Regions from separate parts of the Homo sapiens genome. Here regions 1, 3 and 4 are each linked to region 2. The links come from fine-mapping of genetic effects on gene expression. A gene starts in region 2. Each other region holds a variant in brackets. All regions are shown on one strand. Distances are from middle to middle.

The links. PIP is the estimated chance that this variant, and not a neighbour inherited with it, causes the effect.
Region 1: its variant is fine-mapped to the expression of NIPAL1 in testis (GTEx, PIP above 0.99). The same link has a PIP of 0.9 or more in adrenal gland.
Region 3: its variant is fine-mapped to the expression of NIPAL1 in whole blood (TOPMed, PIP above 0.99).
Region 4: its variant is fine-mapped to the expression of NIPAL1 in blood mononuclear cells (TOPMed, PIP 0.91).

Annotation. Positions count from the first base shown.
Region 1 is chr4:48,067,868-48,075,999 of GRCh38, reverse strand. TXK (TXK tyrosine kinase) reads left to right here. Exons shown (of 15, transcript NM_003328.3): 13 at 1,947-2,065; 14 at 4,326-4,483. Among named protein-coding and RNA genes, the nearest start is that of NIPAL1, 55 kb to the right of the region's middle. The variant C/G (reference allele first, on the strand shown) is at 4,717.
Region 2 is chr4:48,012,285-48,020,312 of GRCh38, reverse strand. NIPAL1 (NIPA like domain containing 1) reads right to left here and starts at 3,541. Exons shown (of 6, transcript NM_207330.3): 1 at 3,428-3,541. The coding sequence starts at 3,473. It overlaps CNGA1 (cyclic nucleotide gated channel subunit alpha 1), which reads left to right and starts at 3,632. Exons shown (of 11, transcript NM_001379270.1): 1 at 3,632-3,830. RefSeq lists silencers at 2,906-3,065, 3,356-3,685 and enhancers at 3,450-3,951, 7,796-8,028.
Region 3 is chr4:47,910,486-47,918,617 of GRCh38, reverse strand. NFXL1 (nuclear transcription factor, X-box binding like 1) reads left to right here and starts at 4,035. Exons shown (of 23, transcript NM_001278624.2): 1 at 4,035-4,253; 2 at 4,413-4,649; 3 at 7,624-7,794. The coding sequence starts at 4,415. LOC101927157 (a long non-coding RNA gene) reads right to left here and starts at 4,391. Exons shown (of 3, transcript NR_125879.1): 1 at 3,914-4,391. RefSeq lists enhancers at 4,055-4,284, 3,795-4,480, 4,481-5,167. The variant T/C (reference allele first, on the strand shown) is at 3,161.
Region 4 is chr4:47,817,935-47,826,066 of GRCh38, reverse strand. The region is part of intron 1 of CORIN (corin, serine peptidase); the gene reads left to right. Among named protein-coding and RNA genes, the nearest start is that of CORIN, 16 kb to the left of the region's middle. RefSeq lists an enhancer at 32-1,618. The variant C/A (reference allele first, on the strand shown) is at 4,593.

The DNA of each region.
Region 1 (8,132 bases), 56 kb before region 2:
GACTTTAAGTCTAAAATTCAAGAGTGTGAAAAATTTAACCATATTTTTCTACAACTCAATATAGTTTAAATTTTGAGCATCCTTTTTTGGGGTGGTGCTAGAAATATAATCACAGGGAATTTGGGGTTTCTCTCTAGCTTCCCTAAGCTTCAAAGTCCAAGTTCTTGTGTCTCGTGGGGCTATAGTACTGGTAGTGAGGTGGCTTACTGGTCCTTTTGTTATCTGTGTGCATGGCATCATTGCAGCCACCATCCTCCGGTCTTGTCTTTGGCTGGCCATTCAAACAGGTAGCTGCTAACACGTACTGAATTTTTTCTGCAAGATTCATTCAGAACTGGCAATTTTTTTTTTCGACAGAGTCTTACTCTGTCACCCAGGCTGGAGTGCAGTGGTGCTCTCTCGGCTCACTGCAGCCTCGACCTCCCAGGCTCAAGCTATCCTCCTGCCTCAGCCCCCCGAGTAGCTGGAACTACAGGCACATGCCACCACGCCCAGCTAATTTTTTATTTTTGGTAGAGGCGGGGTTTCACCATGTTGGCCAGGCTGGTCTTGAACTCCTGACATCAAATATCCACCCACCTCACCTCCAAAAGTGCTGTGATTACAGGTGTGAGCAGTCTCACCTGGCCGGCGTTCTTTATGATTACAAAACTCCATGGTGTGATCTCAGATCTCATTTACCTAGGCACATCCACAGCCATTTGTTCACTGGCATCTTTCTGCCTTTCCAAGGGCTCCACCTGGGGAAAAGAGCACTGGTTCTGTGTCACTTTTAAATCCCACCAACCTAATGTGGGAGTAGGAGCTTCTTTCCTAAAGTACTTGGGCAGCCCTTTAGGGTACAAGATACAGGACCCTAACCCACTGATCTACTAATGTCTAGTACCCCCCTTTTCTTTCCCTTCTATTTCCCCCATTCCTCTTTTTGGGGGAAAAAGATCCCCCCAAAGCTCAGGGGATCTTTTTCTAGATAGTGGTGGTAATAGGGGTGGTGGTAGTGAGATCTCACTCCTGTTCATGGCCCATTTTCCAAGATATTTTGTTAATAACTCAATCTTTCTTCTCTGAAGAGCCTAGACTTGAAAAATTCAAAATCTATAAACAGTGGCTTTTCTCTCTTTGTTTTCTGTTAGTCATTCTTTACCTAAGTAGAATGACCTCTGACTCAATAAAGTGCTGACAGGTGGAGGGAGGTAGTGTATTTAAAAAAAAAGTGAGAGTATAGGGGCAGCATTAATAAATGCTGTGAAAACACTATATTGTATATTTAAGGGGCAACAAGCACAAGTTTATTTTTGTCTCTTCTCCTCAGTGTCTGACATTTGGACATCCCGGTGTACAATTCTCAAAAAAGAGAGAGGGTTCAACTTGTTATTTTTTTAAGGAGACGGTAGTTATTCTTGGTTTCTTTCCATATAGGGCCATTCTAGTGCATTAGAGATTTGTCATATCAGAAGCATTATGTTCATATACTTTTACTTTCCCCCCTTCTGTATGCCCCACAAAAAAACATGCACATGGAAGAAAATTCGACATCCAACTTTGAATCATTCATTTCCATTTTAAGAAGAGTGGTCTTTGTTTTCCCCACCCCTGGGAAGAGTGGTCTTTTATTTCCTTTTTATAATCTTGGTTGTTAGAGCCTTTAGCAGGCTTCTTTGTAGAGTTAAGAATTTACCATAATTAACATAAACAGTGAGCCATGTTTTGAACTGAAGCAGCATTATGATTTTCAGAGGTCCACGTAAAACAAATACAATTGAGACTTTGTTTGGGGAGGAAACATTATCAGGGACACTTTCACACTCTACTAACAAGAAGGCATCCACAACCTTTCTGGGGTAAAATACTTTGTCTTTTAGCAACTTAGAGTTAACTAAAGGGATTTGAAGTAAATAGAGCTTGGAGGTAATTAACACAATATGCTTTGAATCTGATAAACTTAGGTACGTTTTGGATGATGAGTATGTCAGTTCTTTTGGAGCCAAGTTCCCAATCAAGTGGTCCCCTCCTGAAGTTTTTCTTTTCAATAAGTACAGCAGTAAATCTGATGTCTGGTCATTTGGTGAGTGCATCTGATGTTCACTTGCTGGAGCTTGATTTAATAAAATGGGCAATGTGTTATTTTTAACTTTGATTTCCTAATTGATATAGCATTTTTTAAAAAGTCTTCTTGTAATTGTGCTTCCTTCTGTGTGTTCTAACCACATCCCGACTGTCTTTGGCAACTGGTGTCACATACCTTCTTACATAAGTCTGCCTTTTGGATCTTTTCCTTCCTCCATGGGCACTCACTATAAAACCATAACAAAGAGTCTACTGATCTAGAAAACAAACTCAGATAAGTTTTCCACTCCGCAGAGGCTTGAAGGAAAAATGATCTTATGACATTGTTTAGAGTGTAATTAATAAACTTAATTGTCTAAACTGTGAAGCAGGTTGACTATTTTCCAGTTGTTCAGTTGTTAACCTGAACTTAAAACCTGAGTTTAAAAAATGGTGGCATCTCATTTACTTCCTTAACTTTAAAGTTTGTGGAATTTAGACATAGGCTTCCTTGGGATCTATAAATTGATATTCATATTGGATAATGTTCTTCATTGAGAAAGAGACACCATAGACCCACGTCCAATGAAGTTTCGGGGTTGATTTTCAAAAAATGGTAATAAATATGCAAAAATCTATCTATCCTCTTTCACCCCAAACTTCCTGGAGGCTTGTGGGTTCTGGGTCCTCAGAAGGGTGTCAGTTTTATTGTCTACAATAAGGTTAAAACTGGGCACAGTGGCTCAGGCCTACAATTCCAGCACTTTGGGAGGCTGAAGTGGGAGGATTGTTTGAGACCAGGAGTTCAAGACTAGCCTGGGCAACCTAGCAAGACTCTGTCTTTACAAAAAAAAAAAAAAAATTAGCCAGGTGTGGTGGCATATACCTGTAGTCCCAGTTCCTCGGGAGGCTGAGGCAGGAGGATTGCTTGAGCCCAGGAGTTTGAGGTTATAGTAAGCTAGGATCGTGCCACTGTACTCCAGCCTGGATGACAGAGCAAGACCCTGCCTCAAAAAAATTAAAACATAAATTTAAAAACATACAATAAAGTTAAGCTTGTGTCATTAATCTCATTAGCTCTCCATGGACATATGATAGTCTCAGCAGGTGACACTTGAAGCTCTACTGAAGAGCAATTAGGTTGTGAGACCACATCTTAGAGACCAATGAAGAGCAATATAACGACCTCATCGAAGGTTGCCAAACAATTAGAACTCCCTGAATTTTACCTACTTGTCTCCCTCACTGAACAGTGAGCTCCTTAGGCACATGGATTGATCTCACACTTATAAAATCTCCAGGCCCCAGCAGAGGCCTCGCCTCTCATCAATGTCTAGTAAATATTTGTAGAATAAGTGAATAATTAAATGAACTCAAATTAGGAGTTCTTGCAGGAGTTTCACTAATCAATCAATCAATGATTATTGGACATCTACTTATGTACAGAGCCCCTGCTAGATATTCTGGGGCTCTGCCCATCAGTCTAATCTTTTAGCAGAAAGAAGGGGACACATGCCATTTACTGGCTGAAACTCTTGGCTAAGTAGGCAGCAGAGGCTCACATAATCCTGTCAGTTTCTATGGAATGGCAGAAAGGTTCATTGATTTCAGGATGCAGGAACGTGACTGCTGCTTAGAAATGAAAATGCTAGGCCGGGCGTGATGGCTTACGTTTGTAATTCCAGCACTTTGGGAGGCTGAGGTGGTCGAATCACCTGAGGTCAGAGCTCGAGACCAGCCTGGCCAACATGGTGAAACCCCGCCTCTACTAAAAATAGAAAAATTAGTTGGGCGTGGTGGTGGGCACCTATAATCCCAGCAACTCAGGAGGCTGAAGCAGAAGAATTGCTTGAACCCGGGAGACAGAGGTTGCAGTGAGCTGAGATCATGCCACTGCACTCCAGCCCGGTAGACAGAGGTTGCAGTGAGCTGAGATCATGCCACTGCACTCCAGCCCGGGCGACAGAGCGAGACCCTGTCTCAAAAAAAAAAAAAAAGAAAAGAAAATGCTACTGGCATTTTCTCCTGATAGGAGAGGCAATCAAGACCCATGGACAAGGAAAGGCATTGTTTTCACTTAGATTATTTTCAGGTTACAGGCCTCTTTGAAAACTAAAGTGAACATGATTTGCTTCCTTGACAGAACCGCTGTTATTCAGGATGGTTATAGCCCAAAGCCTGGAGCACAAAAATAATGCCTTGTAGTTTGAAATTGTTCTTTCAGTTCCCAAGCAATCATTTCTCTCTAACCCCTTGTTTTCCTGCATTTTTGTTTGCAGGAGTTTTAATGTGGGAAGTTTTTACAGAAGGAAAAATGCCTTTTGAAAATAAGTCAAATTTGCAAGTCGTGGAAGCTATTTCTGAAGGCTTCAGGCTATATCGCCCTCACCTGGCACCAATGTCCATATATGAAGTCATGTACAGCTGCTGGCATGAGGTAAGCATATGTTACTTTCCTATGAAGGTTGGCAGTCCCAGCATCTGAGAGCAGACCTGATTATCACAAACATTACTTCAGAACTCTGTCATGGCAGGAAAAGGCATCTGTGTCTTGGTCATGATCCTGAGAGTCTGAAGTACTATCTCAAACTCACTACAAAGTCATGAATCCATTTTGTTTTGAACAATGGCCTTTTATCTGAGGAATTCAGTGCATTTTCTGAGTCTTAT[C/G]TGTTTGAGATTGGTTCTTGCAGAAACTCTTGGTGTTACTCAAGCCTCAGTGATTAGATGTTTTATTAGCTTTAAGAATTAATGGGCCGGGCGCAGTGACTCATGCCTGTAATCTCAGCACTTTGGGAGGCCGAGGCGGGTGGATCACCTGAGGTCAGGAGTTTGAGACCAGCCCAGCCAACGTGGTAAAACCCCATCTCTACTAAAAATACAAAAATTAGCCGGGCGTGGTGGTGCATGCCTGTAATCCCAGCTACTGGGGATGCTGAAGCAGGAGAAGAATCTTGAACCTGGGAGGCGGAGCTTGCAGTGAGCCGAGATGGCGCCACTGCACTCCAGCCTGGGCGACAGAGTGAGACTCCATCTCAAAAAAAAAAAAAAAAAAAAAAAGAATTAAATGATGGAGGCTGTGTGTGGTGGCTCACGCCTGTAACCCCAGCACTTTGGGAGGCCGAGGTGGCCAGATCACTTGAGGTCAGGAGTTTGAGACCAGCCTGGCCAACATGGTGAAACCCTGTCTCTACTAAAAATACAAAAATTAGCCAGGCCTGGTGGTGCATGCCTGTAATTCCAGCTACTTGGGAGGCGGAGATAGGAGAATTGCTCGAACCCAGGAGGCAAAGGCTACAGTGAGCTGAGATTGCGCCACTACACTCCAGCCTGGACAACAGAACAAGACTCTGTCTCAAAAAATAAATAAATAAATAAATAAGCAAATAAATAAAAGAATTAATGGTGGAAACTAAGGGTAGAACCAGGCTTGTTAAATTTCCAGGTTGAAAAAGAAAGATGGTGTTTCCATTTACTTCACTCAACTTTGCTTTGTCTTGCTTTTCCAACGCTAATAGTAATGGGTTTCATCTGTCTTCTGGCAGTCAGGACTCCTGCTACAGATTAAACTAGAATAGGAATGGAGGCAGAAAGTGTGTCAGGAACTTCCACTCAGGAAGAAATCTCTCCAGAACTTAGTTTTTCTATTTGTTGAAATGCCAAGCTTAGAAATAAAGCCAGAGGGGCTTCTTTTCCACCTCTGGGCACTGACTCAACACACCCCTGCCCTTCTCAGTGAAATTCCCTTTGATTTTGAGAGCTTTGGTCTCTTTCCAGCTGACAGTTTCAGCTGGAAATTGCAGCTTGATGAGAAGTTTCCTCCTGGCTGAAAAAATAAAGCACTTGATTATCAATCCACAAACACTAGAATATTGAATATTTTAAGAGTGATGTGGTTATTCATATTCCAAAAGCATTACATTTATAGAGAGCCCCAATGTATGAAAATATTTTACATATATTAACTACTTTACAAGGAATCTTGAAAGACATAGAAAAATGCTCAGCAAGCTGTAAGAAAAAAATGTTCAGAAAAATGTTCAGTGAGTAGTAATAAGCAGCCGTTTTAGGAGCATCTTTGCAATAACAATGTAAGTAGCTCAGAAGTATATGTTGTGTATGAAATAATACACACGTGTGTGTGTAATATAATGCTTATTGAGATGTTATATGTAAGTGGAACTGAGACATAGAAGGAGGAAGGGAAGTGATAAGTAGGATGCTGTCAGAAGGACCATGTAAACAACATTTGTCTCAAATTGCAATCAGAACATTGATTAATACAATGGTGTGGTTATGTCGATTTATTTGTTTGAAAAAGTTGATTTGGCCGGGTGTGGTGGCTCATGCTTGTAATCCCAGCACTTTGGGAGGCTGAGGTGGGCGAATCACGAGGCTGGGAGTTCGAGACCAGCCTGGCTAACATGGTGAAACCCCGTCTCTACTAAAAATACAAAAAAATTAGCTGGGCATGGTGGCGGGCACCTGTAATCCCAGCTACTCAGGAGGCTGAGGCAGGAGAATTGTTTGAACCTGGGAGGCAGAGGTTGCAGTGAGCCAAGATCCCACCATTGCACTCCAGCCTGGGTGACTGGGCCAGACTGTCTCAAAAAAAAAAAAAAAAAAAGAAAAGAAAAGATTGATTTATTTTTGAGACAGAGTCTTGCTCTGTTTCCCAGACTACAGTGCAGTGGCACAATCACATCTCACTGCAGCCTTGACCTCCTGGGCTTACGCAATCCGCCCAGCTCAGCCTCCTGAATAGCTGGGACTACAGTGATGTGCCACCATGACCAGCTAATTTTTTAAAATTTTTTCTAGAGATGGGGTCTCACTTTGTTGCCCAGGCCTCAAGCAGTCCTCCTACCTTGGCCTCCCAAAGTGCTGGGATTACAGATGTGAGTCATTATGTCAGGTGCAAAAGTTGATATTGCCTACAGCTTTACCCCATGTGCTTAGGGCATTAGAGTCAAACGTGATTATGCTATCTTTGAGAGACAAATTTCAGGATTCATGCGCAGAAACAGGCTCCTCACAGAGCTCCACAATTTATGCCCAGAGTCTCAATAAGGACCCTCACTTGCACTTGTGCTGTCTTCTGCTCTGTTTATTTTACTGATGCTCTCTGTTTATAAGCCATGAAGAGGGGTGTCTTTCCGCTGACCCTACTGTCAATGACCCCTGTGAGAATGTGGCTACTATGAGTAGCTCTGTTTCCCATGGTTTTAAAAGATGCTGACAGTGCCATCTCTTCTTCCTCTTGGAATCAGAGCTAAACCACACCCCTAAGTGAAGTAGGAAAAAATGCTCCAATCCTTGGCTCCATGACCAGGGATATGGGGTCACTTATGGTGAATATCTTCCTTTAGAGTTGCTGACTCAAAAACTGTGCAAAGATCACAGGCTTTTAAAACTTTTTAAAATGTAAGAATATTCAGCAATCATTTTTCTATGTGTGAGAGGGACTTCCACACTCTTATTTTTCTGTTGACTGAGACTGAAAGCACAACCTGTGCCCCAAGACCTTCAAAGTCCCTCATGAAAACATGCCTTTTGCTTTCTGACTGAAATCCTCCTTTCTATAATGGCTCAGGTGTCATAGATACCCTGAACTGAGCTTGGGAGCCTGGTATGCTAGATGCCCCTTCTCCCAGCCCTTTCTTTACCTCACACATGTCAAGTCATTCAAATATATCTCTAGGGTCGTGGTGTCCTAGAGTACTTTCTGAGATGCTGAAACGTTCTATATCTGTGCTGCCCAATATGGCAGCCACTTCTGGCTATTGGGTTCTTGAAAAGTGGCTAGCACGACTGAGTAACTGAATTTAAACATTTATATAATCTTAAGGAATTTAAATTTAAATAGCCACATGTGGCTAGTGTTTGCAGGTCTAGCCGTTTTATTTTTGCAACATTCTCTAACATTTTCATATTCACGCCTCACTCAACTGCCAATCATGCTGTGCTATGTCAGTCAGTCAAGATATCTTTCTCTTCCTTTTTGTGAAGAGCCAGCCTGGATTCAGGTCTCTGCCAGCAAGTTCCAGAGCTGGTCTCTGAGTGATCCTTAGCCTATTTATGCCGCA
Region 2 (8,028 bases):
GTCATGGTTTTTCATCTCAACTTACAACAAAATCTCAACTCCTCACTAACTTTGAACTTTAAAGCTTCTCATGCTCTGAAACTGGCTCGTCTCTGACATCATATTGCATTACTCTCCCTCTCACCCCTCTCTGAAACACTAATCTTCTTTTCCTTCATTCAACAAATATGTATGGTGTACTACCTGTTGGGCATTTTCTAGAATCTGGAGATAGAAAAATGAATACAACAATGGTCCCGCTCTCTTATATTCCAGTGGGGGCAGATAGGATTAACAAACAAATAACTATACGTATGTTAAGAGTGCCATAGCAAGTAGTAAAAGCAGCATCAAGGAATATATTTTTTAAAACAGGATTAAACAAAAGAGCCTCTCTGCTAAGTCTAAAAGCAGAAACCCTGAGGGGTTGAAGAAACTGCAGTCAGCCAGGTTGCCTGGGGTGACAGAAAGGGAGATGGTATGAGATGTGGCTAAAGAGTAGGTGGGAGAAGGATCAGGTGAAATGAACCTTTAGACAAGTAGGTCTGATCTTGTCATTCCTCCTTCCAAAACTCCACAAGGGCTTCCCTTCTCATTCCGAAAAAAATCCAAAATTCCCACTATAGCCTATAAGGCCCTGTGGAATCCTGTCTCCAGCTGCCTAACCTCATTCCCTACTATTGCCTTTTCTTCTGTTCCTTTCATAGAATAAGTTCCTTCTCACCTTAAGCTTTTTAAAAAGCAGCTGTTCCTGAGCCTGTTACAGAGTGCTGGCTGGCATAGCTAGCTTCTTCTGAGTGAGAGGACTAAGCAACTCAGAGAGGCCTTTCCTGCCTTCCCAATCTAAAGGAACCTCTCAGTCACTTTCCATCATATGTTCCCAATCAAATAGACTTCCTCATATGGCTTAATTACAGCTTTATAACAACCTTCATACATATTTGCATTTGTTTCTTTTAAAGATAATTTTGGATTAGAGACTCTTTTGAAGCATCTATAGCTTTAAAAGTCAAAACCAATGTGGGGTGGGGGATGGCTCATGCCTGTAAACCCAGCACTTTGGGATGCCAAGGTAGGAGTATCACTTGAAGTCAGGAGTTCAAGACCAGCCTGGTCAACACAGTGAAACCCGTATTAAAAATACAAAAATTAGCTGGGCATGGTGGCATGTGCCTGTATTCCCAGCTACTTGAGAGGCTGAGGCAGGAGAATTGCTTGAACCCAGGTGGAAGTTGCAGTGAGCTGAAATTGCACCACTGCATGCCATCCTGGGTGACGGAGTGGCACTCCGCCTCAAAAAAACAAAAAAAAGTCAAAACCAAAGTATGAAATTAACTTTTTCTTCATGGAAGTTCAACTGGAATGTTCTATCTTCAGATCTCATGACTGACCCCTTGTCATTTGGGTCTCAGCTTGAATATCACTTTCGTAAGGGGCTTTCATTGAATACCCAATCTAAACATCCCAACACTCTTGATACATTACTGCTATTATAATGATCTTTTAAATTACTTTGTTTCTTGCATAGTAGCTGCCATCTGAACAGTAAGGTGCCTGAGAGCAGGAACCTAGTCCTAGAGTCTGGGACCAGACTGTCTTGCAGATCCCTCTATCCCAGCACCTATGCCAGTGCTTGGCACATGGGACTCTTGTTATTTGAATGAACAAGTGAAAAATTGAGTCTTTGTTTACTCCATGTCAAGCTCTGAGTGGTGTAGTTCATATGTAATCCCACCTGCACCTACTCTTCAGAACTGTAAACTGGAGGGATGACCCCCAATTTATAGACAGGAAAATGCTCAAGGAAGCTAAGTTACAGCTCAGACTGTCTGATGCCAAAGCCTAATCTCTTCCCACTACTAATAACGTGCATTCAGATTTCTAAGTCTTTCTCACCAGCTTTTCACACAATTAATTACCATGGTTAATCACAGGTATTAAGCCTGGAGCTTAAATGTTTCTTGTTGGAACTCAATGCATAAGCAAAGCAGGAAAAACATCCAGAAGCTCAAACAAGTGGGTGTAATTCATATACCTTCCTTACTTACAGATCCTTGGGTAAACAAGTGTGGGTGTGTTAGTAACTGTCAGATTTGCTGGGTTAGAAATTATTTAGAAAAAGGGCACACAACCTGACTCTCTAGGAAATAATTCTAGATTCAGCTGCCTTAAAATTTTTGTTTTTTAATAGTTTGTGAGTTGTTCAGGCGTTATTGCTCTTTTTCAGAAAAAAAGACTAGAAAATAATTCTAGATCCAGCGGCCTTAAAAAATTTTTTTTAATAGCTTGTGAATTGTTCAGGCATTTTTCTCCTTTTTTTGGTGTCCCTTCTCTTCCTTGCTAGCATGGTTTGGACGAGCTCACTTGTTAAAAAGGAATAAGCTGGAAGAGTCAAGAGGAGAGGAAACTAGGGAAGTTGCGAGCACCTTTGCAAAGGTGTATATGTATATACATATATATATATATATATGTGTAAGGGAACTATATATATATGTGTATATATATAGTAGTTCTTACCATGCCTTTCACTGCCTCCCTTCCCCTTTACTGCATTATCAGGTAAATTAAAAAGCTGCTTTCCCCTTGGTACGGCGAAAACCATCATTTCAATGTATCTACATCCTTCCAGTCGCTCCCCCTACCCCCTTCCCTACTTTTATCGGGGCCTTCTGTATGGAGACTGCAGAAAACCCGCCAGTGTTGCGAACACTTGGCGAAGGGCAAGGAGCCTCGCCCAGAGATTTCACGGGGCTCAGGTGAGAAGCAGTAAGAAGAGCCTGCAAACGAGTGCTCCCGGTTCCAGGTTTCCTCTCCAGTACGGCTCTCGCCTTAAGCAGCCAGAGTGACTGCACAGCGAGTCAGACAGGCTCATGGGTTTGGAGACCTTTTCATTTCCAAGGAAGAGGAGAGACGTGGGCGGCCCAGACTTGCCCAACGCCCACCCCCGCGGCCCCGGGCGCCCAACCTCTCGCGGTGCTCGATCCCCGGGAGCCAGCGCAGGGCGCAGCGCAGAACTCCCACGGGCCCCCCAGGCAGACACGCCCTCTGCCCACCGGGTGACGTCGGCCGCAGACTCTGGAAGGGAGCCTGAGTCAGAGGAAACGTCCTTCTCAGAGGGACTCGGGATTCTTCCCATAGCATCCTGAGTTTCCCCGTCCCACACGCAGCACGCGGTAATTTACACTGGTCGGCCTCGCGAATCGAGTGGGAGTCCCACCTGCCTTATTCCACTCAGGTTTTCCAGCACAGCCCGAATCGCCTAGGCACCCATAAATAAGTGTTGAACGCCTGGCTGGACGGCCGACTGACTGAATGAATGAATGAGTGAACGACTACGTTTAGAGTCGGTACAGCCCCCCTTTCCAGTCTCCGCAAGTGTCCGGGGACCGCCCACCCGGTCTCTTCGCCACCCAGCTGCCAGGTCCCTCGGCTCAGGGCAGACACAAACCTTCTCGGCAGGGCTCTCCGGGCGGCAGCCTCACCTGTGCCCCCATGGCCCCGGGAGCGGGCTTCCGGAACGCGGGCGCTTGCTCCTCACCTGGGCCTCTCCACACGCACCCGCGGCGGGCGGGGCTGCGGGGTCTGGGAATGGGGCGCCCTGACCCCGCCCCCGGGGCAGCCTCCGCCAATGGGCATGGCCAGGCGGGGCCTCAGCGCCAGCCGAGCCCTGCTGCCCGGGGCTTGTTGCGAATTCTCAGGGCCCCCGCAGGCCTGGGAGCGGCCTGTGATAACTGGTGTATCTGGCAGGAGTAGCAGCTGCCCCTTGGCGCGACTGCTGGAGCCGCGAACTAGAGAAACACAGACACGCCTCATAGAGCAACAGCGTCTCTCGGAGCGTGGAGCCCGCCAAGGTAACTCCGGGAATTGAGTGGAGTGGAGGCTGCACTGAGGCCCCCTTCTGGCTCCTCTCTGGTCGAAAAGGCTCCCCCGCTAGAGAGAGCCCTGCTGCTTTTGGAAGCCTTCAGGTGTTAGTTGCTTTGCACCGAAGCTGCTGACTGCTGGGGTTCTGCGCCGATTGCCAGGCTCAAGTTTATTTTGGGGGCTGCTGAGCAGACTTTGCCCTTCTGTGCTGTTATCAGCTTCTGTCGCTGTCCGTCCACGCCCGCTATATCCATCCACTCTCCGTTCTGTCTCCAGCAGGCAACTCCCCCTACCCTGCCCCATTTTCTGGGTCATAGGGGTATTTGAAATAAACCTTTAAGGGAAAAGCAATGCCAAAACTGGAAAGACTTATTTCCACGAATTATTAATAACTAATGTTTATGATATCCTTGTTATACCATACATATGCAGGCACATTATGTATTAATTAAATCTCACAGCAGTCTATTAACGCTCAGTTTACAGATGAGGGATTAGAGGCAAAGAGTGAGGTTAAGTAACCAAACCAAGGTTGGAAGACCTGATAGCAGGTATTTACAAAACAAGGAGTGGGCAGGGCTGGCGGGTGGCTCACCCCTGTAATCACAGCACTTTGGGAGGTTGAGGCGAGTGGCTCTCTTGAGTCCACAAGTTCGAGACTAGCCTGGGCATCATGGTGAAACCCTGTCTCTACAAAAATTAGCCAGATGTGGTGGTGTACTCCTGTAGTCTCAGCTACTCAGGAGGCTGAGGTGGGAGGACGGATGACTTGAGCCCAGGAGGTGGAGGCTACAGTGAGACATGATCGAACCACTGCACTCTAGTCCAGGCAACAGAGTGAGACCCTGTCTCAAGAAAAAAAAAGGTGAGGGGTGGGGTAGTGAACAATTCGGGCTCAAACCCTCACCAGGGAGAACTGGGGTGCCTTTGTGCTCTGGCATTTTAACACTGAGGAAAATATTCTCATGTACTCAGGTAGCCTTTGTTCTAAGTAGGCATGAACAGTGCTATTAATTTTATTACCTAAGAGTTTCATAGCAGAGGCCTCAATCTTGTTTTTCTTGTTCTTAGGCGGATGAGAGAAGAGCTAAGAACAAATTAGTCAACATACCAGTCCAAGGCACCCACTTTTATAATACATATGGATGACTTTGCAGAGAAGGAACACCACGGAGAGTGGAATAGGTGAAAGTTGAAAGCGAGGGAGATTTATGCCAATTTTCCATAACAAGCCTTAAAACTTAGACTTCTTTTTGTTTGCTTGTTTGTTTGTTTGGCTTGGTTTGGTTTTTTTTGAGACGGAGTCTCGCTCTGTCGCCCAGGCTGGAGTGCAGTGGCGCGATCTCGGCTCACTGCAAGCTCCGCCTCCTGGGTTCACGCCATTCTCCTGCCTCAGCCTCCCGAGTAGCTGGGACTACAGGCGCCCCCCACCACGCCCGGCTAATTTTTTGTATTTTTTTTTTTAGTAGAGATGGGGTTTCACCGTGTTAACCAGCATGCTCTCAATCTCCTGACCTCGTGATCCGCCTACCTCGGCCTCCCAAAGGGCTGGGATTACAGGCGTGAGCCACCTAGCCCGGCCCAAAACTTAGACTTCTATTTAAACGTTTTCTTTGGATTTCCAACTTAAAATTTTGTCTTTATCAAAAATTAGTAATGATGGTAAACGTGATCTATGGTGCTTATTTTTTATTTAACAAACACTTGGATAGCATTTACTATGTGGCAAGCACTATTCTAATCTCTTTGTAAATATTTGCTTTATAAATCTTCATGAAAATCCTGTAAGGTAGATACTACTACCCCCACTTTACAGCTGAGGAAATGGAGGCACACAAAGATTGAGTAACTGGCCTATGCACACATAACCAGTAAGTGTGGAACCAAGATGCTAACCAAGAAAGCTGGGCTTCAAGTATGTGCTCTTAACCCATTTGGTAATTGGACATTAAAAAACAAAACAGACTTTAAAAAATGTATCTTTATTGAATTTCAGTTGCATATTAAGGTCTACTTTAGGTAAGAGGCATTTTGTTGTAGTTCTTGCTTTTCAATTCTGAAAATAAAGAGAAAAAATTCAGAAAAAAAATATTTAAACTCATTTAAGACCACTGCTTTTCCAGTTTAAATGTTGCCTAGCAGAAATTTATAATATGTATTTTCCTTCATTGATAATTTCTAGATGACTTTGGGGAATACCGTTATAGTACCACACACTGTCTTTAATGACATAAAGTTGGGGGATATTTATTCCCCCGCAAAATCATGTTGTTTGTTTAACTAAAAGAAGAGCATTAAAAAAATCTCCAACTAGCCCATTCTTTGATTCTAGGAAAATTACTCTTCTGACTCAAAAATTAGAATGCGATAATAACTGAGACCCTCTAAAATGCCAACTTCTGTTTTATTGGTCTTTGTGCTAGGACACTTAGACCCAGGGGTGATGGTCAAAATAAATAATGATTAGTAGAGCCTTAGGGCCTCAAGGGACAAGGCCACAGGTCTTTCGAGCTTGGGGAGGTCTGGGAGGGTTCCTGGTGTGTCAAGGTTAACCCCTGAGTTGCTACATTGTAGGGAGGTCTGTGGTTTCTGGGGCAAGGAATAAGATGACTAGACAAGAGGGGTGGTAGCTGGGGAGTAGAAACCACCTTTGCAAAAATTATATCACTGAGAAAATTTTAACAGTAAGCTGAGTAATTCATCCTCCATCTTGCCTTTCCCTTAATTATTCCTGGGTTATTGAGTTGTGAAAGAAAATCAATAGTGGAGCCCCCAAATCACTAAGCTAAAGGGAAAAGTGAAGCTTGGAACTGCTTAGGGCCAACCTGCCTCCCATTCTATTCAAACTCACACCTCTGCTCACTGACATATCTGATCGCCTCCTTTGGAGAGGCTAGTCAGAAACTCAAAATAATGCAACCATTTGTCTCTTATCTACCTATGACCTGGAAAGCCCCGTCCCTGGTTCCAGTATTCCTGCCTTTGCTTTGAGTTGTCCCGTCTTTCCAGACAGAACCAATGTTCATCTTGCATATGTTGATTGATGTCTCATGTGTCCCTAGAATGTATAAAACCCAACTGTGCTCTGACCACCTTGGGCACATGTCATCAGGACCTCCTGAGGCTGTGTCATGGGGTTGTGTTATCAACCTTGGCAAAATAAACTGTAAATTCACTGAGACCTGTCTCAAATTTTTGGGGTTCACATTTTGGTAACCACAGAGGGATTCTGAGTGGAGATGCCCCTGACCTTTGGCAAACCTCTTATCAGTGCTTGGTACCAGCATGAGCTAATTTTACAGCTCAAACCAATAGGACAATTTGCTGAGGTCTGAGAGCACCCCCTCCAGAGAATCCCTGATTTCCCCAAATTTGGTCAAGATCTAAAGTTTATTTTGCTGTACAACTTCTCTTTTTTGGAGTTTTACTTGCTTCTATCAAGAAAGACAAATTTTCTGTTTCCATGACGTTGGAGTTTGGCTCACTTCCAACAGGGAAAAGGAGTGTTTTTTTTTTTGTTTTGTTTTGTTTTTCCTGCTTCTTGAATGGTAGAGAGCAGTCTATAGCCAGAGACTCGTCCCTAGGTAAGTAACTGAATTGGGGTTTGTCTTGGTTAAAGTTAAGATTAACGACCAACTGGTCTTAATTTCTCCTTACCATTAGAGCACTCAGTTATCATATAAATTGTGCCATTGTTTGTTTTGCCTAACTGTTTTTTGTTGTTGTTGTCTGTTTTTTATTGTTGTTTTGGTCTTTTTCCCATTGGGTTTGATCAACTCTATCCAACTTGATCAGGGTTTGATCAACTCTATCCAACTTGATCAAATCCAAAGGAAAGTTCCAAATTATGGGGAAGAAGGCCTGAGAAGTGGCTAAATTCTAAAAAAAAAAAAAAAAAAAAAAAAAAAAAAAAAGATGGTGTGGTGGGGAGGAAAATGGCCAGCAAAAGGAAAAAGAGGAAGGATTTTTGATTTTGACTACTAAAGGGGCTTTGTTTACATAACACCACCCTTTTTGTTAGGCCAAACTGAAAGCAATGGCTGTCCTCCCACACTGCTAAGGTCCCACCCGATAGCTAAGGTTGTGCCTTTGTTTTTTTTCCTACCAAAACAGCCCTGGGTTTGGTTCCTAAATCAAGCCCTTTCTGGTTTGATACTTGGTACTTCTGAAATAGCAGCAATTTGTCCT
Region 3 (8,132 bases), 100 kb after region 2:
TATAGATTCAATGCTATCCCCATCAAGCTACCACTGACTTTCCTCACAGAATTGGAAAAAACTACTTTAAAGTTCATATGGAACCAAAAAAGAGCCCACATAGCCAAGACAATCCTAAGCAAAAAGAACAAAGCTGGAGGCATCAGGCTACCAGACTTCAAACTATACTACAAGGCTACAGTAATCAAAACAGCATGGCATTGGTACCAAAACAGAGAGATAGACCAATAGAACAGAACAGAGGCCTCAGAAACAACACCACACATCTACAACCATCTGATCTTTGACAAACCTGACAAAAACAAGAAATGGGGAAAGGATTCCCTATTTAATAAATGGTGCTGGGAAAACTGGCTAGCCATATATAGAAAATTGAAACTGGATTCCTTCCTTACACCTTACACAAAGATTAACTCAAGATGGATTAAAGACTTAAATGTAAGACCTAAAACCATAAAAACCCTAAAAGAATACCTAGACAATGCAATTCAGGACACAGGCACGGGCAAAGACTTCATAACTAAAACACCAAAAGCAATGGCAACAAAGGCCAAAATAGACACATGGGATCTAATTAAACTAAAGAGCTTCTGCACAGCAAAATAAACTATCATCAGAGTGAACAGGCAACCTACAGAATGGGTGAAAATTTTTGCAATCTATCCATCTGACAAAGGGCTAATATCCAGAATCTACAAAGAACTTAAACAAAAGTACAAGAAAAAACAACCCCATCAAAAAGTGGGCAAAATATATGGATAGACGCTTCTCAAAAGAAGACATTTATGCAGCCAGCAGACATATGAAAAAATGCTCATCATCACTGGTTATCAGAGAAATGCAAATCAAAACCACAATGAGATACCATCTCACGCCAGTTAGAATGGCAATCATTAAAAAGTCAGGAAACAACAGATGCTGGAGAAGATGTGGAGAAATAGGAATGCTTTCACACTGTTCTTGGGAGTGTAAATGATTTCAACCATTGTGGAAGACAGTGTGGCGATTCCTCAAGGATCTAGAACTAGAAATACCATTTGACCCAGCAATCCCATTACTGGGTATATACCCAAAGGATTATAAATCATGCTACTATAAAGATACATGCACAGGCATGTTTACTGAGGCACTATTCACAATAGCAAAGACTTAGAACCAACCCAAATGTCCATCAATAATAGACTGGATAAAGAAAATGTGCCATATATACACCATGGAATACTATGCAGCCATAAAAAAGGATGAGTTCATGTCCTTTGCAGGGACATGGATGAAGCTGGAAACCATCATTCTCAGCAAAATATCACAAGGACAGAAGACCAAACACCACATGTTCTCACTCATAAGTGGGAGTTGAACACTGAGAACACATGGACACATGGAGGGGAACATCGCACACAAGGGCCTGTTGCAGGGTGGGGGGCTGGTGGAGGGATAGCTTTAGGAGAAATACCTAATGTAAATGACAAGTTGATGTGTGCAGCCAACCAACATTGCACATGTATACCTATGTAAGAAACTTGCACATTGTGCACACGTACCCTAGAACTTAAAGTATAATAAAAAAAAATTGTTTTGACGATAACAATACCTACTTCATGGTTATTGTGAAGATTAGATGAGTAAAAGAAAAAAGGACCTAGAAGAATGCTGGCACATAGAAAGCACTCAAGGATTGCTGGTCACTGTTATTAGCTATTGAATATTTGAGGGAACAGAAAAAATTTCTCAATAAAGTTTGACATGGAAATTTAGATAATATGCTAGTCCAGCTCTCTGGCATATAACATAATTCTAAGAAGGATCTCTCTTTTTAGTAGCCACTCAATACTTCTTGGACATTACTCAGTGATAATTACTATATTCTCTCTCAGAGTATAACAGCTCCTTTCCTGTATGTGAAAACCCCACTGAAGAAAAGTCTCACTTTAGGGTTTTCAAACTTTGAAAGCTGGTTGCAGCTTTAAACTTACAGTTCTTATACAAGTGCAGCATTAAGAGAGTTGCTGTGCACCTGTTAGTTTCTAGCCAATGAAGTTATATCATTCTCAGAGATGTTATTTCTTTTCTTCTTTTCATTTTTCTGAGACGGAGTTTTGCTCTTTTGCCCAGGCTGGAGTGAAGTGGCGCGATCTTGGCTCATTACAACCTCCGCCCCCTGGGTTCAAACAATTCTCCTGCCTCAGCCTCCCTAGTAGCTGTGATTATAGGCACCCACCACCATGCCCAGCTAATTTTTGTATGTTTAATAGAGACAGGGTTTCGCCATGTTGGCCAGGCTTGCCTCAAACTCCTGACCTAAGGTGATCCACCCGCCTTGGCATCCCAAAGTACTAGGATTACAGGCGTGAGCCACCATGCCTGGCCATGGGATGTCATTTTTGAGTTTGGTTAATGTACAGGCAATTCTGCAATATCTATGTTTAAGACATTAAAAGCATGGTTTCTAATACTAGACTACTTAGGATTGAATCTTGGCTTCACTACTTCCTAGCTGTATGATCAAGGGCAAATTGCTTAATCTCTCTGTGCCTCAGTGTTCTCAGTTGTAAAACGGGGATAATAAACACGGTTACTGTGAGTACCAAATTAGTTAATACATAACGTAAAACACTTTAAACAGTGCCTGACATCTAATAAATGCTATCTAAATATTATAATAGAAATTTATGGTTAAAATAGAAGAATTAACTAAGTTGAAGGACTGTACAATAAGCCATCAATATGTTTCTCAATCCCAGACAGACCCCAGAATGAATTTTTGCAATCTACCTGTCAGTATATATGCACATGTATCTTATTGGAAAACTCAGCAAAATCATAAGATTTAGGTCCTGGCCCTCAACTATTTTCCTTAACAAAATCTACTTTAGGGAGATGCTGTGAAGGTAAAAATTAGCATGTCCCAGGGAAAGCTCATTGCACACTACAAAGGACTATGACAATAACAGGCTTTAGATTTATTTTCTACATTGGCTCTAGCATTTTAGAAGGGTACTTTTACTACTCAAGCCACTTTCCTGCAACTCTCCCCCGAATTTCCCTCCTTCACAGTGGCCAACCTCAAAGCGTTTTCAATGTAAGTGCCTTTCCTGTTAGTGAGACTTCCCTATGAAAATAAATAGTTTAAAGGTTGTTGGAGCCTAAAACTCACTAAGCC[T/C]GGAGAGAGATGTGACTGTCATCTGAGTTACACGTGGTTACAACTTCTGTTTCTCAGATTATAGATTAACTTGCTTTCTTATTTTTCTTGTTCTATACAATGGCTAGAGAGAATTAAACGAAGTTAAGGACAAAAACTTCCTGCCTTCTTAATGATCCTTATAGATTAACTTCTGCTTTGTTGCCCCGGTTTGCTTAGACCAGATGACAGAAAATCCTTTATGAAAAATGTTAAATGTACACTTCCCAAAAAGAAACACTGTCTATAATCAAATTGTTGTAACTATTCTCTAACCTTGTATGAGAAAATGCTGTAATCCTGCTAAAAAACCTCTCAGTTTCTGCCTATATAAGTGAAATCTTAAATCTCTACTTCGGAACGCTGACTCCTTCCTTGGAGTCGGTGTTTCTAGGTAGGCTATCCTCAAACTTCGCGCTTTTGATTATTTTACATTGACACCTCCTGTCATCCGCAAGCTCAAAGGCAAGGCTAATAAAAGATGGCAGAGAGCCAATTAGGGACAGAGCCATGTAATCCTCATACCCAGGTGAGTTTAGGGCAGTCTTGCAGAAGCAGAAGCAAATTGTGGGGTCACGAAACCCTCCGGACCCGCCCGCCTCCACCACCACGCGCCCCTATGACCTTCGACCCCTCCCTAGCCCCAGAGCACGCCGGGAGTTGTAGTTCCCAAAGGCCTGTTCGGGCCAGCGCAGGCGCTTGGGGTTTCCCTCCCACCCAACCCCCGCACTTTACCGGATAAGGAAGCGGCCCGTGCTGCCACGCAGTCGCCGGAACGCGGGCGGGGGCTTCTGGGAGTTGTAGTCTGTTGGGGGCGTGCGCAGTCGGTAAGGAGACGTAGCTTTCCGTGGGGTGTACCACTGCAGTTGGTTCCCGGCGGGAGACGCAGGGTCAGTCTGTGACTCTTCCCCTACCACGCTCCCGCAGAGGCTGAGGAGGCGGTTTCGACTTCTCCTCCGGCTTTCTGTCTTCGGCACTGTGTGCTTCTTGCTCCGCGGTTTATTTCTGTACCTAGTCCTCCCTCCCCTCTTCGGTCCATCTCCAAAGCCCGGGCTTGGCGGGGACTCGCCCTCCGGTAAAGGCAGGGCCGCGACCTCCTAAAACCCGGTCGCCGCCCTGCAGGAACCTTCCTCACTCGGCCCCTCACACCGGGTTTCCGCACTGACCCTCCTTCGCCTCGGTCCTCGCTGCGCTCACCTCCTTCCACTCTTTTTTTTTTTTTTCTCCTTTGCAGGGATGGAAGCTTCCTGGCGCCAGGTGGCCGGTGGCCGAGGCCGATCCCGGGGACGGGCCACTGCCGCCCCCTCAGGAAATGGAGTCCATCTCCGCGGCGCCGGAGGAGGGCGAGAGAAGGGGTCGGTGGGCGCAGTTCCTTCTGGCACCAGTCCCGGAGGAGTCGCGACCACGGCGGCTGCAGGGAGCAGGCACAGCCCCGCAGGATCCCAAGCCCTGCAGACTACCGCAGCCAGCGGTGAGAATGGCTCCCGCCCGCGTGCTCACCTGGATGCCTCCTAAGGCAGTTACTAGTCAGGACCGCCTCCGCCCTCGCCTTCTTTCTTTCACTGCTTTTCCCCTCGTTCGGGAGTTTGTTATCGGGCCCACTTCTCCAGCCTTTCGGGTGGCTGCTCTTTTCGGCACTCTAGGTAGATTTCCATCGCACCTCTTTCATCTTAATTTTAGGTGGTATTACCTTTGTTACTTCCCTCCACTCTTGCCTACTTGAATCTCCAGACCATCAGTTGTAAATTGTGGCCCGGTGTTCTGATTTGGTCTATAATGTTGTTTGGTTAACACAGAGTTTTAAATGTGGATTGATTGTCAGCGGTTGTTTGTCGTTTTTAAAAATCTGGTTAACAACCTTGTGGCTTTAGTTATCTTTGTGCATGGCAACAGTCAGCTCGGCTGAGTCACAGAAATCCCATTTAGATTGGACTTGGGCATTCCATCTCACATTCTCTCTCATTTCTGGAGCCAGGTGTCATTTGTCATCTTTACCTTTGCCTTTGTTTCTTGACTTGTCTTATTCCTTGTAAGCACTTGAGCTTTTGATACCTTCCTTGACTGTAGTTCCTATTTACAAATTCCATGTCCTTCTGTGGACATATCTGGTGTTGCCTCCGATATATCAATACTTTTCATCCAAGACCATGTTTTCGTGGAGCCAGGGAGGACTTACACACAATTGTGCATGGGGCCGAGGGAATAATCCCTGAAATCATTTTATTTTTGTGTTTGGAATGCATTTCAGGATACATTTTTTTGGGGGGTGTGGAGCAGAATTGAGTATCTTGAATGATTTTTCTCCTAGGCTAATTTGAAAGGTAGGTGGTATTCTCTTAGCATGCAGTTAATGGCCGTGATGATAAGGTATACAATATGGAGACGTGTGAACAGGTTTGGTAAACTTTTTTTTTTTTTTTTTTTTTTTGAGACAGAGTCTCGCTGGTCGCCCAGGCTGGAGTGCAGTGGCGCAATCTCGGCTCACTGCAAGCTCTGCCTCCTGGGTTCAGGCCGTTCTCCGGCCTCAGCCTCCCGAGTAGCTGGGACTACAGGCGCCTGCCACCACGCCTGGCTAATGTTTTGTTTTTTGTTCTTTGGTTTTTTTTTTTTAGTAGAGACGGGGTTTCACCGTGTTAGCCAGGATGGTCTCCATCTCGTGGGTAGAAGGAAAACAAGCATTCTGTCCGGGCGCGGTGGCTCAAGCCTGTAATCCCAGCACTTTGGGAGGCCGAGGCGGGCAGATCATGAGGTCAGGAGATGGAGACCATCCTGGCTAACAGGGTGAAACCCCGTCTCTACTAAAAATACAAAAAATTAGCCGGGCGGGGTGGCAGGCGCCTGTAGTCCCAGCTACTCGGGAGGCTGAGGAAGGAGAATGGCGTGAGCCCGGGAGGCGGAGCTTGCAGTAGCCGAGATTGCCCCACTGCACTCCAGCCTGGGCGACAGAGCAAGACTCCGTCTCAAAAAAAAAAAAAAAAGAAAGAAAAGAAAAAGAAAACAAGCATTCTCTACCTGGACAGTTGAGATTTGGCTGTAAGAAATAATACGTGAGAAGGTTGTCTTGTCAGCTTCTCTTTACTTTGAGATGATGTTAGGTGAATACATTTATCAGGTTATGAATGTTCTCATTATCTCTGTCCAGTTCAGCCTGTTTTCTTATGTATCTTTTAAGTGCTAATTTCCCGTATATTAATGACATTTATCATCTCTTTTGTGACAAGTTTTGAGTTATATATCTCATAGCCAGTTCTTTTTTCCCAGTACTCAAAGCTTGCTAGGTAAGCATGATACACATTTTCGTCGAGGTTTACTTGAAATACTCAATTTGTTTTGTTAATAACCCCTAACCAAACTGGCTGCAATAAGAAAAGGAAAATGTTTCATGAGGGAACATAATCAAGTACGAATATACCACCCAAGATAAGAGAGCTTATCTTGGTAGTGGCTTATCAGTTTTAAGTATAATGTTAATTTTAAAATAGTCAATCAGTAAATTTAAAATCCTCTCAAGATGGGAATTCATGAACTCAGATCAGTTCTGCAGGTTTGTGGCTCCTTTCTTAAACTATGTTTGCTGTCCGTAAGAGCTTATTAACACTTAGTGCTTGAAGAAAATCCCTGTGGTCCTTGCTCTCAAGAAGTTTGAAGTTTCTTTGGGAGTATGTGCAGTGAAGTAATCTGGTTTTGTTTTGCATGATTAATCAAGTAACAAAATGAGAAGTACAGGTAGTGCTGAATAGTGGAAGAACGAATCCAAAATTAACATTCTTTTTGGAATGAAGTTGGAAGAAACATGTTTTCCATGTTAATACTTTGTGTGGATTAATGTAAAATATGTTTTTTTGTGTGACCACAAGAAGTCCATAATAAAGGCAAAAAGTTCTTGACCTAAGAAGCCGATTGTAAATATAGTGGGTGCATAGTGAGTACTGTTGGTACAAACTCTTTGGTAGGGCTGGACTGGACTGGGCTGGGCCGTCGTGTCCTATCCTACCTGTTGTTCAGAAGACGGTAGTTTGAAATACCTACCTTCCCTGATTCTTTATGTGCTCACTGTGGACATGTTCCCTCACTTCTTAAAAATTACTGTGCACAATGTACTTTAAAACATCTTAATTTTTGTTAGTCCTTATTTTGAAGTTGATCACCAGTATTTTGATAGTTTTATTGTATTTTCATATTTTTTTTCTTGATTTGTTAATCACCGTTATCATAAAAATTTGCTGCATTTTAGCAGGATACTTAGAAAAGTGAAAGTTTTTGTTGTGGTATTCTCTTTAGTTGTGTGTCAAGGAATTTGAAAATACTTTTCTCGTGGATTACAGGAAGGTAGAATGCTCCAAAGGTGACTTTCAAATGTGTGTTGTAAAATGATATATTAGCACATTATGCTTTTCTTTTTGAGAGATTGTTTTGCAGAAATGAAACTTTTTTCTTTTAAACAGAGCTAATGTCTCAGAAAAAATTTGAAGAAATCAAGAAAGCTAACCAAGCTGCAGCCAGAAAACTTGTTGAAGAACAGTTTAGCTCTTCATCTGAAGAAGGAGATGAAGATTTTGAAGGAAAACAGGGAAAAATACTTGCAAATACGTTTATAACATACACTACTCAGACAGGTACTGATCTTTTAAATTTTGACTTTTGACGTCAATGAAACTGTATTCCTGACATTTTTTTGGTAATGCCTTTGTTCTATATGGAATAGATTTTATATCTTAAGATGAGCACTGTATGTTATAGAGTTGAATTTTTGTACACTTTGGTATTTGAGTTATATATTGTGTAACACTAATTTTTCTATAAAGCAAATAGAATGGCAGTGGCTCTTTTATAGCCTTAGGAGGCCTTTGTGTGTATTTAATTGGCATTTCAGTAGAATGCTTGGATGGGGCTGCTAAAGCTCCTGAGCGGTGGACTGGGGCAAGTTTTTTCTGGTTGTGATGATTTGATTGAA
Region 4 (8,132 bases), 190 kb after region 2:
GGACGAACAGAGGAAGGAGGTTTTCTTATTAGGGTACAGTGAGCAGCAGAAAAAAGCAATGGTTGGCTGGATTCAGTGGCTCACACCTGTAATCCTAGCACTTTGGGAGGATGAGGCTGGCAGATTGCTGAGGTCAGGAGTTCGAGACCAGTCCGGACAACACGGTGAATCCCTGTCTCTACTAAAAATACAAAAATTGACCAGACATGGTGGTGGGCACCTGTAATCTAGTAAGCTAGTTGGCAGGCTGAGGCAGCAGAATCATTTGAGCCTGGGAGGCAGAGGTTGCAGTGAGCCGAGATCACGCCACTGCACTCCAGCCTGGGTGACAGAGTGAGACTCCATCTAAAAAAAAAAAAAAAAAAAAAAGCAGTGGTTTGAAAAAGTTACTGGTGATTTTTACTATCTGCTCACTTTTTTTTTCTGGTAAGTGTAAAAATGTTCTAAAAGTTATTCATTTAAAAGAATTACTGCAATGTGGGCTTGGTGGGATTCAAGTGTTACTCTTACGTCTTTATCTATGAATGTTAGCGAATGTGTGATTAGGCCAGTGATCCTAGAACTTTAGTGTGCATGAGAATTACCTGGAGGGTCTGATCCAACATGGATCGCTGGGTCCCATTGTCAGTTTCTAATTTAACAGGTCTGGGTTGAGACCCAAGAATTCATGTGTCTAACAAGTCCCAGGTGATGCTAATTAGCCGCAGATAGGTGTGGTGTGGGAAAGCCCGGCAGAATACCTCGCCTGCAAGGGGGACTCCCAGGCCTCACTTCTATGGGGAGGGGGCCACATAATTGCCAGGAAAGACTCTGAGGCTGGCTTTCCATCGCTGATCCGGACACTTACAGAGCCCTCCTCCAGCAACAAGCCCAGCAATTGGTTGCTAAGGAACTGGAGAGTCCGCACACAGCCTCTCTTGCTTGGCTCTGTTTTGTGTCTCGCACCCTGAGGCCTGAAGCAGATGACAATTCTGAGCTTCTCAAGTCTCAGTTAAAAATACCTCATTTGCCACAGGCCAGCGGTGTGCTCACATTTCCCAGGTGGAGTGACTCCCTGGACCTGCGGCTGCCCTGGTGGAAAGTCTGTAAGCAGATAACACCAGGTTAAAAATAGCCCTGGGGAGGCCCCTCAAAGCTGTCACACTCAGCTGCCCACGTTGGGTAAGCAAGGCAGAGTGGGGAGGGATCTTTCAAGCTAGGAATGACTGAAGGACTGTCTGGCTGTGTCCAGTTTCATTCCCTAAAGAGGTTAGGACAAACTTGAGAGTTTAGCGTTCTCTTTCCCCTTGGCCTTTGTGGTTTTTTGAATTCAAAATCTAGACTTGGATACACAGCTCTAATCTGGCCTGTGGTGCTTTTTATTCTGCCCTCTTCTGCAGAACAATAGAATCATAACAATAGAATTGAGTTTCCATCCTGTTTGAAATTAAAACAAAGAAGGTGAACCTGGGGCATGGTGGCTCATGGCTGTAATCCCAGCACTTTGGGAGGCTGAAGGGAGAGGATTGCTTGAGGCCAGGAGTTTAAGACCAGCCTGGGCAACATACTGAGACTCTGTCTCTACAAAGCAAAAAAAGAAAGAAAGAAAAGCTTTTCCTAAGGCATCCTGGTGAGAACGTGAAGTGGCCCCAACAAAGGACCTGCAAGATCTCACCTGGGTGTGCCTTGGTCAGTGGTCCGAGTTGTTTTATGACAAGCTCAGCTTACCTGTTTGGCCTCCTGGTAGCACTGTGTGTGTATTTTTTTTTTTTTTTTTCTGTTGTTGTTTAACACTACCTCTATTAACTGAATGCAAATAAGAGGAACAAAAATGCTCTTTGAATAAGAAACATATATTCCTAACAATATTCTCAAATCATTTCATGTCAGCCACTCCTAAAAATGCTCTTGTATTGTTATTCTCCTTTATATATGCTTTAGGAGAAAAAAGGAGTAAAAAAAAAAAAAAAAGGAATAGCATTGATTGCTTTCCATAGATTTCAAAACTTTGGATTTTCCTATTCCTTGCTCCTTGGTGAACAACTGAGTCCTGAATGGTTCAGTGGACAGAGTAAGGTGGGTTCTAAAGTGTGGGGAGGGACAGCAGCACGTCAGCCACATCAACAAGGACAGGTGGCCAGCAGAGTATGTTGGTGCCTAAGCAGGGTAAGGATGGTGTGTGTGGAGGTCAACCTAAGATGGGGTTCAGGGTCTGAGTAGGAGGAGGAAGGTGTCCATGCATAGGAGAGCCAGGGCAGAATGAGCACGGCGTCTGGGACAGGGTGAGCATGGCGCCCACATGGCAGCTGGGGCTGGGACATGGGAAATTAGTTACAGACTGGGGGATTGATCAAGCAATTAAATGTATTAACAATAAACCAGCTTTCTCCCTGTTGGAAAAGGGGTTAAAAGTATAGAAAGTATAGTAGATCTGGACCTCTGTGATATGGGATTGAAACTGGAGATATGTGTATAAATATCTGGTTTTCAATGTGTAAAGATAGATATAGAAATAAATACAGAGGCCTATGTGTATGTGTACATATGTGAATGCACACACAATATAAATACATTTTTCCATATAGCTCTTTCTGCTGAGAGAAACTGGGAACAACACCACCCCAGGAACAATGAGCACATCATATGCATACCAAGGGGCCCTCAGATCTTGTTTTTTAAATGTCATTTTCTACAAAAAGGAACCAGGATCCTTGGAGAAATGGCTGATTCCAAGGGTGATGCAAGGCTAGTAGCAGATGAATTCAAAGCATCTTGTTCCAAAAAGCAAGGAAGTGCTCAAAGAATGATGGGGCATGTCACAAGGACACAGCAGCCAGCTTTAATGAACTTCCATTGGCCAAATGGAGGGCAAATTGAGGATCTAAGTAAATTATGATAGTAACAAATTATAAACCATTGAATGAAATAGGAAAACAGTAGTCCATGCTTATGTAAGCGAATAAAAAAAGAAATGGGGCCGGGTACGGTGGCTCACGCCTGTAATCCCAGCACTTTGGGAGGCCGAGGCGGACAGATCATGAGGTCAAGAGATTGAGACCATCCTGGCCAATATGGTGAAGCCCGTCTCTACTAAAAATACAGAAATTAGCCGGGCATGTTGGCACGCGCCTGTAGTCCCAGGTACTTGGGAGGCTGAGACAGGAGAATCGCTTGAACCCGGGAGGTGGAGGTTGCAGTGAGCCGATATCGCACCACTGCACTCCAGCCTGGCATCAGAGCGAGACTCCCTCTCAAAAAAAAAAAAAAGAAATGGAAAGTTTGAAGAGATGGTATATTAACATGGTTTCAAAGTACCTCTCCACAAAATAATGTTACAATGGGGAGGCTTGACCCATCCCAACAGTATCATGTGTTGGATATGACTGTCATCAATAAAAGGACAAATTGATAGGATTCAATGAGAAAAATGCAACATCACTTTTGTGTTATTTCTCCCAAAGATGTCTGAATTTAATCCTAAACCACAACTGAGGAACATTCTACAAAACAACTGGCCTGTAATTTACAAAACTGTGAAAGTCATAAAAGATAAGAGAAGACTGAAGAAGACTAAAGAGACGTGAAAACCAAATGTAATTGTGATTCTAAATTAGATCCTTTTGGTAGAAGGGGTATTATTGAGACTAATGGAAAAACCAGTGGGGTCTGAGAATTAGGTGGTTGCAATATATCAATGTAATCTTCTCATTTTAATGGCTGTGTTGTGTTTAGGCAGGAGAATGTCCTTGTTTATAGGAAATATCCATTAATATATTCTGGAGCAGTGAGGCATCTGGTTAGCAACTGAGTATCAAACGGGTCAGAAGAAAAGTCAGAAGAAAATGGGTCAGTTCCTTATACTGTACCTTCAACTCTTCTGTAAACATGTGTGTTTTAAATTTTTTAAAAAGGAAAAAAGTAAATACATTTTGTTTAATAATTTCAGGAGATATTTCACTTTTGCATTTTTAAAAAATCTACCCTAAGACAAACTTTATTTGTAGTCATGGACATTTTTTCTTTTTGAAAGTAGTGAACAATTTAGTATACTGTTAATATACAACTTAATCTTAAATGAAATATCTTTCCCCTAACTTCTTCAATTGAAAATAGGATTATTTATAATCCCTTAATTCACATCCACAATTCTTAATTGTGTTTCCTTTGAAAAGGATAAAAGTTGATACATGAAAGCTAGGCAAGTATTAAACATTTATAGAACTCTTTTAAATTAGTTTAGTCTGTTCTCATTTGGATCTGGAGGTTTGTCTTTTCATAAGCAAATTAGGTGCATCTATAATATACATAGTTTAAAACATTTATCATTTCTATGTTTGGTTTTGTCTCAAAGTACAGATAACTTTAGCGCTGGGAAGAAATGAGACAATCATTTAAAAAATATTTTCTTGCTTGGGAATACCAACTGTGGAAAGACGTCAAAACAAAATTTAAAAATGTGATGGATGGAACAATGGGATCTACACTCTCAAAAGCCTTCTTTTCTTTTTATCAACTTCTTATAATTTTAGAAAATGTTACATAATTCTTAATACCTTGAACTCCGATCATAAATATTAAACATTCAGACAGTTTTTTTTATAAGTATGTATTAA[C/A]ATATTATTTAAAATATTTAAAACCATCAGTGGAAAGAAGCGGGGAAGGTAAATTATTTGATTATGACTGAAATAATAATTCTAATATTATATATATATAAGTACCTATAATAAATATTAATTAATATTCCTAATCATTGAAGTATTTTCAACATGAGACTGCTCTCTGTTGTAGTTAAATTGAACATATTTTAATAAAAAGGTTGAGGTCAGTTTGTAAGTTCATTTTGTTTTTTTTTTGAGATGGGGTCTCGCTCTGTCGTCTAGGCTGGAGTGCAGTGGCATGATCTTGGCTCACTGAAACCTCTGCCTCCCGGGTTCAAGCGATTCTTCTGCCTCAGCCTCCCGAGCAGCTGGTACTACAAGCACACGTCACCACATCTGGCTAATTTTTGTATTTTTAGCAGAGACGGGATTTCACCATATTGGCCAGGCTGGGCTTGAACTCCTAACCTCATGATCCGCCTGCCTCATCCTCCCAAAGAGCTGGGATGACAGGCGTGAGCCACCACACCCAGCCATGAGTTCATTTTTCACATTGCCATAAATTATTTATGCTGTACTTTCTATAGCATTTTTTAATCATAAAAAGTATGACTCAATCTATAGCATTAATCACAATAGTAATTAAATGAATATTTGTGTAACAATTGACTCTATTTTTCCCTTGATAGTTCGTGTATTCCATAAGGACAGGGACTACTGACTTGTCTATATTCTATTTCTACCTCTTAGCACAGTTTATCAGATCACTTTCTCATGTGTTTTACATTTTTTATTGTGAGCTCATTTTTCGGGCAGGGGGCAGTTTCGGAAGTGCAGAGTGGTTTTGGTTTGCTTCTGATAGGCACCCTAGTAGAATTACCAGTCTGAGATCTACTTTTATATTAATTTCACAGCTTGGGAATTCTACACTTGCTGTACAATGTAAATTTGTACAGCAAATTTTTCATTTCTCATAAGAGCTTTTTATTGTTTTCACTTTTACAGGGATGCTCTTTTTTAGTCCTTTCCTTGGGCTAAGTGGAGCTTTCTAACTTCCTTTTCACTGACAGTGTAGCATTGTGAAAGTCCTGGATTTATTTGAGGTTCTCATTTCCAGCTCCTAACCTAGGCCTTTTCTCAGGTCTCTTTCTTGGCATTCAAACCCCAGACCCAAGCTCCTAGTCTGACGTCCAAGAAAATTTCTCCCCTCACCCTCATTATTTCCCTCTAACCCTAATTTCCAGGATGTCTTAGCCTCAACTTTTACTGTTCTGGCTTTCAGTTTCCCTTTCTTTTCTTGCTCCTAGAAATTCCTCTCTCTTTCTTTTGACTGCCACTATGTATTTAAACTGGCATGAACAATAGTTGAAACCATGGATGGTTCCATTTGAAAGAAGAATGTGTCGGGAGGGGAGGAAAGTGACACTTTCCGGAGTCAGGCACTTTTATACTCCGGACATTTCCCAAACCCTGGGAGATGGGGCTGCTTGTCTGGCTTCAGGATTGTAATAGCAGTTTCAATTAGGATCCCCCTGGATGGTCTATAAAATTATTGGGAGCATTCTGTATTTGGTAGCATTCTGATGATTATAGGTTATGAAAACCTCTTAGAACTGGCTAAACTGACGAAGGGGATTTTATCTTTGGCTTATTTGATGTCTCACAGATCCTAAGGGCAGGAAAGCAGGGACTAGAATTTGGAGGTAGAATTTGGAGGTAGAAGGCTGGTGGGAATTAATGGAATTATGGGCATCAAGGTACACAGATGAGATGCAGGATGCCTCTGATCTCTGATTCTGAATCAGGATCTTGTGAAACCCTTATCCAGTTAAGGCTAATGGGATCATTTCTCCTCTCCCGTTATCCTTCCCATTTTTGGGAGACTCTGATTCCCTTCATGTCTCTCGCTGCTTCTGTCTCCTGCTTTTTTGCATAGGAATGGTTGGTTCCTCATATTAGCCTTTATTACTCCTCGTAAAGAGATTGTCTTTCCCTGGCTATTTTTGTCTCTGTCCCCTCTTCCTCTAGGAAGGCCCTGTTGAGTTTGCAAGAGTTTAACTTCCTTCTTAATTTAGTCATTTCCTATCTATATTTTCTGTAGGTTCAGTAATTTTTGCTCAGTTTGCTTTTAGTTTCTCTTTGTCTTCTGGCCATGATCTTTGCCAACTTGCTCTTCTAGACTTCCTTTGTGAAGTCTCCCATAGTGAGAAATATGAGTAGATTTTGGGTCTGCTGAATGCTTTCATGTTCAAGTAAATCTTGTCTACCATTATCCTCCTGAGTTGGCTAATTCCTACCCAGAAGGTGTTCTCCTCTCAAATCCGCATCTAACCTAGGCTTGGACTCAATCTATTATGGGTTGCCCAGCTCCCTTTTAAATATTTTTCATTTTTGCTATGTCTTCTCTTTTTCCTAATTCCATAAATTTTCTATTATATTACACACACAGTACTTATGTACTCACCTATAATAACTGTGTCAGGCTGAAACTTGATACGTAAGAATTATTGGATAATTTTATGTTGATTTTCCAGATCTTACCCTGTTCAATATATCCAGATTTTCAAAAGCTGCTTGGCATAGTTGTCCAATCTTTTTTTTTTTTTTTTTTCTGTTTTTGACAGAATCTTTCTCTGTCACTTAGGCTGGAGTGCAGTGGTATGATTACATTTCACTGCAGCCTTGACTTCCTGGGCTCCAGTGATCCTCCCACCTCAGCCTCCCAGGTAGCTGGGACCACAGGAGTGCACCACCACGTCTGGCTAATTTTTGCATTTTTGTTAGAGACGAGTTTTTGCCATGTTGCCCAGGGTAGTCTTGAAAACTCCTGAGCTCAAGTGATCCACATTCCTTGGCCTCCCAAAGTGCTGGGATTACAGGTGTGAGCCACCTTGTCTGACCAGTTGTCCAATCTTTTAGGCATGGTTCCTCAGTTGTTTTTACAATCAAATGTCTATCTGCAGCTTTTAAAAAACTGCCTTTTAGTAATTTATCACATCCTTGACCTTTTGGGGACAGACAATTCATTTGTTTTCTGAGAACTTGTCTTTCTTCCTCTGTTTGATTTCTTTGGGTTCCAGCCATACTTTATTGTCTAGTAGTTATCAGAAGCATCTCTCTCTTTCCAATAAACTCTTTAAGCGTATTAGACCTGGGTGCAACTCCTTGCTCGTCTATATCTATCCACACAGACCTTCAGAGTCTCACTTTTTCCTTCTTATCTGCTCAGCCTACCTGCTCAAAACTCAACCCTTCTCTTAAGGAAACTTATGTCTTCCTCTAATTTAGTAGTTTAGTCAACACTTTTTCTGAAAGTAAGACTGAACTATGTTTTTCAAACCATTCCAGATATTTTTTGACCTCCTGAGATAAACATTCTGTAGAGACAGGATGTTTAATGCACAGGCCTTTGAATTGCCTTTTTAGCCTTTGCATTTGCAAAAGTTTTATTGAGTTGTGTTCCTACTTCACCCCAAGAAGAAGGAATACATGATGATAAAGCCTTGTATATTTTTGTTTTCAAATGAAATCTACCAGCTGTAGAAGGGTAAATCT